Regions from separate parts of the Homo sapiens genome. Here region 1 is linked to region 2. Evidence: fine-mapped expression QTL. A gene starts in region 2. The other region holds a variant in brackets. All regions are shown on one strand. Distances are from middle to middle.

Region 1 (2,912 bases), 20 kb before region 2:
CTGCCAAATCTTCAGTCCTCTCTCTCACTCTCCCGTCTACTTATTATTCATAACTCTCTCTCTTTCTCTTCAAATGCCTTTAAAAAATATGTAGATATATATATAGAGAGAGAGAGAGAGGCTCTCACAGGGTCTGCCCAGGCTGGTCTCAAACTCCTGGACTCAAGAGATCCTCTCACTTCAGCATTCCAAAGTGCTAGTATTACAGGCATGAGCCACTGTGCCCAGCCCTAAATAATCCTCCTTTCTCATCTGGGCCAATTGTTGACTTTAGTACATATCACAAAATACTCCTCCCCCAGAAACTTACCTGCATTGATTCTACTTAATTTTAACCAGTCCCTTACCCAGAATTTTCTCAGCACTTAGTCCCAATTTGTCAGTTATACTGTACTTATTAATATGTATCTTATTCGTCATTTGCTAGTCACAATTTTATATTTGAAAGTGAATCTAGGCCAGGTGCAGTGGCTCACGCCTGTAATCCCAGCACTTTGGGAGGCCGAGATGGGCAGATCACAAGGTCAGGAGATCAAGACCATCATGGCTAACACGGTGAAACCCCGTCTCTCCTAAAAATACAAAAAAATTAGCCGGGCGTGGTGGCAGGCGCCTGTAGTCCCAGCTACTCAGGAGGCTGAGGCAAGAGAATGGTGTGAACCCAGGAGGCGGAGCTTGCAGTGAGCCAAGATCAGGCCACTGCACTACAGCCTGGGTGACAGAGCGAGACTATGTCTCCAAAAAAAAAAAAAAAAAAAAGAAAGTGAATCTAGTCCCTACTTTTATGAAACACAAGATGATTATTCAACCTCATTTGAAATCCTTTAGTATAGAGTAGCTCATTACTTCAACACACAGCTTCTTCCACCAAGACCAAATCTGGCTTCCTAAAATTTCTACCTATTAATCCTGCCTCAGAATAAACACTAGCCAAAATCTTTAAAAGTTTGGAATACCATTATCTTTTCTCAAAGTCTTTCTTTTTTCCAGGATGAATATCTGTAATTCCTCTATCCACTCATCGTAAAAACCTCTCCATATCCTAGATGAATTCCAGGATATACTACAATTTCTTAAAATGTGGTAACAGTATTATGCTGAAGATGTGGAAGCAGTGAATGCTGACATCAACATGAATCAACAATATCCACCAAAACTTAATACACTACAGTTTTCCTTATATTATACCAGTCGTTCTCAAACTTTAGAGTGCATCAAAAAAACCTGAAGCGGCTGGGCACAGTGGCTCATGCCTTTAATCCCAGCACTCTGGGAGGCTGAGGCGGGTGGATCGCTTGAGCCCAGGAGTTTGAGACCAGCGTGGACAACATGATGAAACCTCATCTCCACTAAAAACACAAAAATTATCTGGGCACAGTGGCACGCGCCTG[T/C]AATCCCAGCTACTTGGGAGGCCAAGGCACGAGAATCGCTTAAACCCTGGAGAGGGAGGTTGCTGTGGGCCGAGATCACACCACTGCACACCCAGCCTGGGTGACGGAGAGAGACTAGGTCTCAAAAAAGAAAAGAAAAGAAAAACCTGAAGGTCTTGTTAAGACACTGCTGAACTCCACCCACTGAGTTTCTGACACAGTTAAGTCTCTGATCTGATGGGAATCAGGAATTTGCATTTCTAAGAGGTCTTTAGGTGATGCTGATGTTGATACAGGAAACCATACTTCAGGAGCCACTGCATTACACTTTATATAACCCAGCTGACTGAAACTCAATCTTTTAGAGTTCGTTTTTCCATTCCCTTGAATCTACCTACAGTCCTGACTAAAATTATGTGTACAACACACACACATGTGCAAGATGCACATACATCAGCACATTTATATTAATGCATGCCTTAGGTAAAAATTGGAAATAATCAGGATTTCTCTCAAATATTTTAAACAAAATACAATACCTGGAATAGGTTTTGAAGGATCTTTGGAGAAAGTACAATATTTTACTTCTTTTGTGTCATACTCTGCCCTACACTGCTTGATGTGATCTATTTGAGATTGAATCTTCGAGGAATTACTTTCGATAATCCTCATTCTGGAAAACAGAAAGGCTTTCTTATGTCTTTCAACTAACTTAATTCTTGAACCACAAAACCTAAAGTCAAACAGGTTAAATCATTACTTTATTTTGAACCATTATGGACTAGGTGAAATGCCCTGAAAAAGTTATCTAGCCTCACAAATGAGGAAGAATTTTCTTTCTGAGCATCAATAAAATCTCATACTATGATTCTGAACCCTATTGGAAATTCGTTAAGTGCTAATCACAATAATATGGCCACAAACTATTCTCTTTAGTAGAAAATTACTTTTGTAATTTAAAAAATATTTTGGTAAGTAATTATATTAGTTTCCTGTGGCAACTGTAATAAATTACCACTAACCTGGTGACTACAAACAACAGAAATTTATTCTCTTACAATTCTGGAAGCCAGAAATTCAAAATCAGTATCACCGGACCAAAATCAAAGTGTTGGCAGAGCCGTGCTTCCTTCAGAATCTGTTCCTTGCCTTTTCCAGCCTTGGGGCTGCAGGCATTCTGACTTCATCACTTCAGTCTCTGCCTCTATGGTCATACTGCCTTCTCCTCTGCCTATGGCAAAGCTCCTGTTTCCCTCTTATTAGGACATTTATGATCATATTTAGGGCTTACTTTTATAACCTCCCTATCTCAAAATCTTTAATCACATCTGCAAAGACCCTTTTTCCAAATACGGTTAACATTTAGGGGTTCTAGAGACTAGGACCTGATGTCTTTGAAAAACTTTATTGAGCCTACTACAGTAATTTTGATCCTAGAGCTAGAGGAAGGACAGCACTTCCCTGAGATAAAACTAAGTTTATCCAGAAATGAAAATTTTAAAGACCAAAAGGTAGTATAAACTTCTCTTAAGCATTATTTGA
Region 2 (2,912 bases):
GACTAGGGGATGAAAAATGTTCCAGGAGGCAGGGCGTGGTGGCTCACGCCTGTAATCTCACCACTTTGGGAGGCCAAGGAGGATGGATCATTTGAGGTCAGGAGCTAGAGAACAGCCTGGCCAACATGGTGAAACCCCATCTCTACTAAAAATACAAAAATTAGCCGGGTGTGGTGGTGGGCGCCTGTAATCCCAGCTACTCGGGAGGCTGAGGCAGAAGAATTGCTTGAACCTGGGAGGCGGAGTTTACAGTGAGCCGAGACCGCGCCACTGCACTCCAGCCTGGGCAACAGAGCGAAATTCCGTCTCACGAAAAAAAAAAAAAAAAGTTCCAGGAAGAATAAACGACTGGATTCTTCAGAAATGCCAAAACACGGGAGGGCATAGGTCAGGAAATTAAATTAGCTTCATTTACTAAAATGTAGAGTAATGGGTTTAGCAGATTAGGTTGTAAGGAAGGCAGAGGCTGAATGTCATTCTAAGAAATTTGAATTGTATCCTGAAGGTGAGGTATAAAATAATAACACACATTTACCTTTCAGAATGAATATTTTGGAGGCAATAGTGAAGGTGGGTTAGAAAGGAGGAAAGACTGGAGAGAGATAAGGAGTTAGATTCGGAACCCCTACAAGAGAAAATTAAGGTCTGAATTTGGGGATGGGGTCGCAGAGGGCAGAGGATGAAGAAATAAATACAGAAGACATTAGAAAGGACTCTGGTTTGTGGAGTGGAGAAAGGACAGGGAGAACTTGCTTCTAATTGGCCTCCTTGCCGGAAGAAGCACCCCATACATACTCCAAAAACTTCCTCTCAGATCCAAGACTCCCAATGCCCAAATTTGGAAATTCTACAACTAAATAACCATTCTGCAGGTTTCTTTTCCGTACGGCTTCACTTTAAAATTTGAAAACTCCTGAGATTTTTCAACATATTAAAGCGTGTCACACTAAGGAGTGACACACAAGACCCAGACTCTTCCCTAGGCTGGGAGAGACTCGGCGGTTGAAAGCAGGGAGGCGCTACAGGAGAGAAAGGGCTGAACCCCCGCTTCCGCAGATTTCACCTATTTTTCAGTTTGCCTGGAGCAGGCCACGCAAATTCCCTTCCCTTGAAGGCCCAAGGAGCGTCTGGTAGATTGCTGATTCTCTGCCCATCACCGCTTCTGGAAGTGAGTGAAGGACACCTTTCGTGCCCCGCACCCTTTGCCCCCCGCTTAACATTTGCTCTAGTCACTTCCGGCCCGTTCCCACGCTCCGGAAACCATTATTCCGCTTCATCCTACCTCCAGTCCTCACCTGAGTCCTTTTCTCCAAACACCGACTTCAGTGCTTAGAGATAGTAACTAGGGAATCTGGGAGGTGGAACTGCATCTTGGGACAAGTAGTCCAAGGTAGAAGAAAGCAGTGGAGAACTACAGTTCCCAGAATGCACTTCCATTTCCTACCTCTTCCCCAAGAGGCCCCCCTCGACCTCCTTTTAAAAATTCTCTTAGCCACGTTGATTGTACGGGAAAAGCCTTTTTAAAACATCTTTTACGTTGCTTAAACCTACAGTTTCGAAAGCATTCCGAAGGCTAAAGTGAGAAATAAGCCCAGGCTAGGGAGAGGAGAAACGAAGTTCACGTCCTAGTCTGGCACCGGGTTGGATTGTCGCTGGGACGGCAGTCAGGCATTTGGTGTGGTCGCCTAAGGGGTGGGTCCTTCGGCGGGAGCTCCGGGAAACCCCGTGGGCCTGCGCGGCGTTCTTCCTTTTCGATCCGCCATCTGCGGTGGGTGTCTGCACTTCGGCTGCTCTCGGGTTAGCACCCTATGGTGCCTTCTCTTGTGATCCCTGACCTAACCTGTCTCTTCCTTTTCCTCAACCTCAGGTGGAGCCGCCACCAAAATGCAGATTTTCGTGAAAACCCTTACGGGGAAGACCATCACCCTCGAGGTACGGGCCGGGTGGTCATGAGGAAGCCAAGGTCCGAATAAGGTCCTGAGGTGGATTTTAGGACCGGCGCTGCTTTCCATGTCTTAGACCATGATTCCGAATTTGGGTTCTAAAACTTAAGCTTTGAAATGAGTACCTTTTGCTGAGCAACGACCTAGAGGTGATTTTCGGTGGCCAAAGGCTGGACCTGTCTCCTCTCGAGGGGTTCCAGCTAGTTAGTTAAAACGGAGGAGCTGCGGTGGGGAAGGAGACGCTCTGCCCGCCGGGTGCGAGCACGTGTGGCCCTGCGGCCGCCGCCCGCTCTGGGCTGGGGAGATGAAGGTGCTTTCCGGTAGCCGACTTGGGAGGTTGCCCACTGGGTGGGTAATAGGTCTCTCGAGTAGGTCTCAGCCCTGTCGCTGGTTCGGTTCAGTGGTAATTGTCAAACTAAATGAGTTCTGCTGTAGTTCCTTAATGTGTAACCAACATGCTTTCACTTTAACACTCATAGGTTGAACCCTCGGATACGATAGAAAATGTAAAGGCCAAGATCCAGGATAAGGAAGGCAAGTAGTATTTTGTAGTTAAGAAAACTTAACCTGCGGAGACTTCGGCCTACCTGTAGGTGCTAGACATACCTGCTCTTGGTGATGGGGGAAGGGGTCAGATTGACAAAGCGAAATACTTGTGGAATAACACAATAGACATTGGTGATCGGGGAGCACAGTACCTAGATTGGAATCCTTGAGGTGTATTTCACTTGCGTGAATTTGGACACTTATTTATTTATTTTGTGTGAGATGGAGTCTCCTCTGTCGCCCAGGCTGGAGTGCATTCGCTTGTCCCGGCTTACTGCAGCCTCCGCCTCCCGGGTTCAAGTGATTTTTGTGCTTCAGCCTCCCTATTAGTGGGGATTACAGGCGTGCACCACCATGCCTGGCTAATTTATTGTATTTTTAGTAGAGACTGGGTTTTACCTTGTTGGCCAGGCTGGTTTTGAA

The links. PIP is the estimated chance that this variant, and not a neighbour inherited with it, causes the effect.
Region 1: its variant is fine-mapped to the expression of CLHC1 in cerebellar hemisphere (GTEx, PIP above 0.99).

The regions. Positions count from the first base shown.
Region 1 is chr2:55,210,764-55,213,675 of GRCh38, forward strand. It overlaps CLHC1 (clathrin heavy chain linker domain containing 1), which reads right to left. Exons shown (of 13, transcript NM_152385.4): 5 at 1,910-2,043. Among named protein-coding and RNA genes, the nearest start is that of CLHC1, 20 kb to the right of the region's middle. The variant T/C (reference allele first, on the strand shown) is at 1,392.
Region 2 is chr2:55,230,941-55,233,852 of GRCh38, forward strand. It overlaps CLHC1 (clathrin heavy chain linker domain containing 1), which reads right to left and starts at 1,353. Exons shown (of 13, transcript NM_152385.4): 1 at 1,283-1,353. RPS27A (ribosomal protein S27a) reads left to right here and starts at 1,748. Exons shown (of 6, transcript NM_002954.6): 1 at 1,748-1,768; 2 at 1,868-1,932; 3 at 2,423-2,477. The coding sequence starts at 1,885. RefSeq lists enhancers at 1,398-1,827, 1,848-2,027.